2 linked regions of the Homo sapiens genome follow. The protein of the gene in region 1 purifies or fractionates together with the protein of each later gene. This does not show direct contact. Each region holds a gene or a part of one and is shown in the gene's direction. Other genes may lie near its edges.

Region 1 (3,054 bases):
AGGCATATTTGAAATCCTTTTGCCACAAACTTAACCTATTTAATTGTTTTGATTTTTTTTTTTAAGACGTTGATGGGAGTTGTGAGGAGTCTTCCTGTGTTGCCCAGGCCAGCCTCCTGAACTGAACTCAAATGATCCTTCCACCTCAGAATAGCTGGGATTATAGGTGTGCACCACTGCACCTGGCTAGTTGTTTTGATTCTAAATTTAGTTTTGTTAAAATGAATCACATTTGCTTTAAAAATAATGATGTTTTCAAAATACAGTGATATAGGCCAGGCACAATGACTCATGCCTGTAATCCCAGCGCTTTAGGAAGCTGACGCAGGAGGATCACTTCAGCCTAGGAGTTTGAGCCTGGGCAACAAAGTGAGACCCTGCCTATACAACAGAATTAAAAATTAGCCAGGCATGGTGGCATGTGCCTGTGGTCCCAGCTACACTGGAGGCTGAGGCAGGAGGATCCCTTGAACCCAGGAAGTTGAGGCTGCAGTGAGCCGTGTTCATGCCACTGCACTGCAGCCTGGGTGACAGAGCAAGACTCTGTCTCAAAAACAGAACAAAAACAAAAGCAAAATACAATGATACAGGTAAAATATTTCAAAGCCAACTTTAGTTACTAAGTGAAAAATGTGATGTTAAGCCCAGTACATTAAAGATGAAGGAAGATGTTAATCACCACCACCACCCCTCCTCCCCACATACCTTCTCTGAACTGGATCTTTTGAACGATATATATAGGGAACTAAATTAGCAAGAAAAAATGTAAAGAAATTAAAGGGTAATTTGTGACTTGACAAGATAAAAGTAGAAATGTTTCAGAAAAATTTTAGGGCATAGGGAATACAGTTGCATTAAAATTACCATTTGAGGTTTCAAAATTGTTATTTGCCTAAGCTGTACATCTGAGCTTTCTGATTCAGTGTGCGTGGAAGGGGCCCAGGCATATATATTTGGACAAAACTCACAGGTATGTATACCTCTGAAGAAGAACCATGGTTGTACAATGAAATGTGTTATCTTGAGGCTATTAAGTTTCTTTCTCATCAATCATTTGATCTTTGTGTCTCTGTAGGTTTTTCAATAAAATGGGCTTGACATTAACTCTCTGCCTACATAAGTTGGAGTTGTGGGCTCTTTCCTCCATCTCTCTTCGTATTACTTATATACTCCTCTTCTGATTTCAGGCTAAATTTATTGTGAAGAAATCAGAAGATGAAGAAGACGCCGCTAAAGATACTTATATTATTGAATGCCAAGGAATTGGGATGACAAATCCAAATCTATAGAGTATTTGCCTCTTAAATGATACCTCATTGATATATTGCACTATTTCATAAATACTATAAAATAATGACTAGGAAGTAACTTATTAAAGGCTATGACTTAAATTTGAAGATGAAGTACAGTGTTCTAGGTTTGCTGAGAAGGCTTCATTAAATTAATCTCACTTTGAATATCTCCTGAGAGATGGACAATGAAATATCAGTTGGTGGATATGTGTGATAGCTGATTTCAATATTGAAGTATTGAAATAAAATATTCTTTACACCTGAAGTAAATACATTTTTCTTTTTTATGTAATTAATTAAATCAGGGATATAGATTTGATCTGTAATTTGGGTATAATTCTAATCTTTGCTGAAATCACATCTCAAGTATAATGAGGCAACTTTATGCAAATGTACTTGTTGTGACAACAATAACATTTTCCTTTTTTTTTTTTTTTTTTGAGACAGTCTCGTTCTGTCACCCAGGCTGGGGTGCTGTGGTGTGATCTTGGCTCACTGCAACCTCTGCCTCCCGGGTTCAAGCAATTCTACTGCCTCAGCTTCCTGAGTAGTTGGTATTACACCACCATGCCCAGCTAATTTTTGTATTTTTAGTAGAGACAGGGTTTCACCATATTGGTCAGGCTGGTTTCGAACTCCTGACCTCGTGATCTGCCCGCCTCGGCCTCCCAAAGTGGTGGGATTACAGGCGTGAGCCAGTGCACCCGGCAACAATAACATTTAATAGGCATTGTCTCATTCTAATGATATATACCTTCTACCTAGTGGGCACTTTGTACATATTTATTTTTTATTTTATTTATTCATTTTTTTTGAGACAGAGTCTCACTCTGTCACCAAGTTGGAGTGCAGTGGCACAATCTCAGCTCACTGCAACCTCCGCCTTCCAGGTTGAAGTGATTCTCCAGCCTCAGCCTCCCGAGTAGCTGGGACTCCAGGCACGTACCACCATACCCAGATAATTTTTGCATTTTTAGTAGAGACGGGGTTTCACCATGTTGGCTAGGATGGTCTCCATCTCCTGACCTCGTGATCCGCCCACCTTGGCCTCCCAAAGTGCTGGGATTACAGGCATGAGCCACCACAGCTGGTCGTAAATATTTTTTGAATTTGAATCTGTTTTGGAAGCCAAATATGTTTTGGAAGCCAAACAATTAAGAGAAGTAAAATTTTAACCCTAGTAGGTTTCGCAGATTCATCCCCAGATATGTTTTTGTTTGGCTTGTGTTATTAACAAATAAATGAGTGTCTTTCAAATGGAATGTGCTTTCATTATTCTCTGTTATCTTACACCCAACATGCTTCCACATTTAGATGTTTTCCTGTTCCCGGTAGCAGTTGAGGTTGTGACTCAAAGGAAATCAGTTTGGTATGTCAGCTTAATGTGTTGTACTACAATAGAGTGTGTAATTCATTAAAACTTGGGTCTATCTTGGACCTTTTCTCATGATGATTAAAACATAGTCCAAAATGTAGATCCAGAGGATGCTCTATGATACATTTAGAAAGTCCTGAATTAGTCTGTATGGAACAGTAAAATGAAAAAAGTTGCCATGTACATAGTCATTATTCTTATCCTTGTCTGTGATATCTATGACCTTGGACAGTTGGGTTCAATTTGCTTTAAAGTTGATAATAGTGTTACTTGCTGTTTATGTTTTCACATAGTGGGTAAGTTTTGTAAGTTATTCATTTCTGTAATAGTTGAGATATATCTTTCTATTTTAGAGTAAAACTTTTTTAGAGTAATACTACACTTGTT
Region 2 (3,500 bases), on another chromosome or scaffold:
TGTGATCTGTGATAGTTTCTTTTGTCAACCTTTTTCTTCTTCTCCTTCCTTGCTGCCTGATTGTCCCCAGCCATCCCAGCTCAGTAGCTTTTCCTGGGATAACTGTGATGAAGGGAAGGACCCTGCGGTGATCAGAAGCCTGACTCTGGAGCCTGACCCCATCATCGTTCCTGGAAATGTGACCCTCAGTGTCATGGGCAGCACCAGTGTCCCCCTGAGTTCTCCTCTGAAGGTGAGCCTGGGGGTGGGTGGAGAAGGGGAGGTGCGAGGGTCTGGCCAGCAGGGGTACTGGGGCATGTATGCTTGGGGAACTGTGAAGAATTTCAGAATCCTGGATTCCCAGAGAATAGTACAGGACATGTAGATTCAGACACTCTTTCACAGGTTCATGGAATCTCAGGATCATAAGATTGAAAGGAATCTCTGATGTCAGCGCCAGCAACTTCCTGGTGAGGGCAGGAGTGACGGATACCTTGCACCTGGCAGAAGCGTCCTGGCCTTCTCTGGGCCTGGTGGCCAACTGCTCATTATTGTCTGACAGCTCTGGTTGGCCAATTTGGTTTTGTTGTTAATTATAAAATTGATATACCAATTAGCCAGTAATATATAGTCACTTTAGAAAACACAAGTGGTCAAAAAATAAATAAAATAGGCCAGGTGTGGTGGCTCATGCCTGTAATCCCAACACTTTGGGAGGCTGAGGTGGGTGGATCTTTTGAGGTCAGGAGTTTGAGACCAGCCTGGCCAACATAGTGAAACCCCATCTCTACTAAAAGTACAAAAATTAGCTGGGCGTGGTGGCATGTGCCTGTAATCCTAGCTACTCAGGAGGCTGAGGTAGGAGAATTGCTGGAACCCAAGAGGCAGAGGTTGCAGAAAGCCAGGATCGCACCACTGCACTCCAGCCTGGGTGACAGAGTGAAACTCTGTCCCAAAATAAATAAATAAATAAAATAAATCACTTGAAATCTCACTACCTAGTGATAAGGGATAAGCACTTTTAACATCTTATAGGATATTCTTTGCAACTTTCCCCCATACAATTACATACATAACACACATATTTATTTTTAATGGATATGTATGATAATAGGCAGTGCTCATTGTAAATGTCCTCCAGTAATCTAAATCCTAGAGATAGTCAGTGTTTGCTCTTTATATATCCCATCAGAATTTTTATGTGTTTGTAAATATATACACACTTATACTCATGGGATTATATGATATGTGCTATTATACTTGCTATTTTTTTTGCCTCATACTATATGTCCATATCTTTCCAAGGATTAGGTGGCTCTACTTATTCAATTTTTTTTTATCCAATCATTATTTTATTATTTTAATGTATTGTAATTTTAGAGACAGTGTGTCACTCTGTTGCTCAGGCTGGAGTGCAGTAGTGTGATCATGGCTTACTGCAGCCTTGACCTCCTGGGCTTAAGGGATCCTCCCACCTCAGCCTCCTGAGTAGCTGGGACCACAGGTTCATGTCACCATGCTTACCTAATTTTTTTATTTTTTATGGAGACGGAGCCTCCCTGTGTTGCCCAGGCTGGTCTCAAACTCCTGAGTTCAAGCAATCCTCCTGCCTCAGACTCTCAAAATGTTGGGATTATAGGCGTGAGCCACCTTGCTCAGCCCACCCAATCATTTTTAATGGCAGAAATATTCTGATGTGGATCTTTCATAATTTATATAACAAGTCTATTGTTGAACATTTAGTTTGTTTCCAGGGTAGTTTTTATTTGTTTGTTTGTTTATTTGTTTGTTTTGAGACAGGTTCTTACTCTGTTGCCTAGGCTGGAGTGCAGTAGCGCAATCTCAGCTCCCTGCAACCTCCACTTCCCGGGTTCAAGCGATTCTCCTGTCTCAGCCTCCCAAAGTGCTGGGATTACAGGCACCTGCCATTGCGCCCCACTAATTTTTGTATTTTTAGTAGAGATGGGGTTTCACCATGTTGGCCAGGCTGGTCTTGAACTCCTGACCTCAGGCAATGTGCCTGCCTCGGCCTCCCAAAGTGCTGGGATTACAGACACCTGCCACCATGCCCAGCTACTTTTTGTATTTTTAGTAGAGATGGGGTTTCACCATGTTATCCAGGCTGGTCTTGAACTCCTGACCTCAGGCAATCCACCTGCCTCAGCCTCCCAAAGTGCTGGGATTATAGGCTTGAGCCACTGTACCTGGCCAGAGGGTTTTTTTTGTTTGTTTGTTTTTTGTTTTGCTGTAGTAACCACCTTTGTAGAAATTATTCTTATAGTACATCTTTTTATAATTTTCTGATTCTCTAGATACACACTTTTTAGGTCTTTTGATACATTTTGCCAAAGTGCCTCCCAATGTTTGAATAAACCTGCATCATTCCTAGTGAGCGTAGATGTCTATTCATAAGTTTATTTGCCTTTTGTATTTACTTTGGGAATAACCTGTTTGTTTCCATCCATTGACTATTTTAGGGGTGTATGTTTTTATATTTTCTTAGAAAACAATGAAGACTTTTCATATATCCATTGCAACACCATTTAATATGGTCCTTTCCTCTCTAGCTAAAATTGCTACCTTTATATGATGCTCCTCTATGCCCTTCAGTCTGTTCCTGATCCAGATCTATTCTAGTACCAGTTTTGTGTTAATTATTTAGAAGATTCCTGATTTGGATTCTGTGTTTCTATCATTATCCTTAGACCTGTCTTAATCACAGCTCCTACGTTATGGGCTTTCCTTGAGCAATACCTGAGTTAGAAAATCATGTGGAAAGTGCTTTGCACAGGGCCTGGCACCCAGGACATGCTCAGTACATTTTATATCTTGTGAACATTTCGATTAGTATCTGTCTTATCCTGCAGTCTCTTGACCCAGACACAAGTCCTGGATATGTGGCAGCTTTCAGCTCCCCTGCACCTCCTACCAAGCCTTTTCCTAGCAGAGTCATTGTGTTTCCATTACTGTTCCTCAAGTGATAGGGGGTCAAGCCCTGTACCCTTGGATCTGGGCCAAGGGATGGAATCATTCCCTATGTATGGACACTGGACTGTTTCTCTGCCAGGGTCACACACATTTATTTGTGTGCTCCCTCTGCTGATCTGGAGTGTGGGCTCTCCTGGTAGGCCGTCCGCCATGCTCCCTCTGCTGCCATCACCATGCAGCCACTGGTGTTTCCAGGGAGGGGGCTATGCAGCTGACTTGGAAACAAGAAGCTGGCAAACCCGCTCTTCTGCCCTCAGCCTGCTTTTCCTGGCTTCTTCACAAACCATTAAGATGGGTTTTACTCCCTATTCTCCTTTTCCATTGCTTTATTACCTTTCATAAATTTGGGCCTACATAATCTCCTCTGTCTTTACTGTCACTTGTGCTTAGGAAAAATTAGCCTCAGATCCCCTCTGCTCCTTCTTTTTCCCCAATTTCTTTTTTTTTTTTTTTTTTTTTGAGATGGAGTTTCACTCTGTTGCCTAGACTGGAGTGTAGTCGCGCGATCATGGCTCATTGCAACCTCTGCCTCC

What was found. The genes of interacting proteins can lie anywhere in the genome.
Region 2: the proteins of RTCA (region 1) and GM2A purify together in Homo sapiens (affinity purification with mass spectrometry; one large-scale study listed by BioGRID and IntAct). This does not show direct contact.

What each region holds. Positions count from the first base shown.
Region 1 is NC_000001.11:100,290,216-100,293,269, forward strand, and holds the end of RTCA (RNA 3'-terminal phosphate cyclase), read left to right. Parts: intron 1-1,187; coding exon 1,188-1,289; 3' UTR 1,290-2,554; downstream 2,555-3,054.
Region 2 is NC_000005.10:151,259,685-151,263,184, forward strand, and holds part of GM2A (ganglioside GM2 activator isoform 1 precursor), read left to right. Parts: intron 1-70; coding exon 71-232; intron 233-3,500.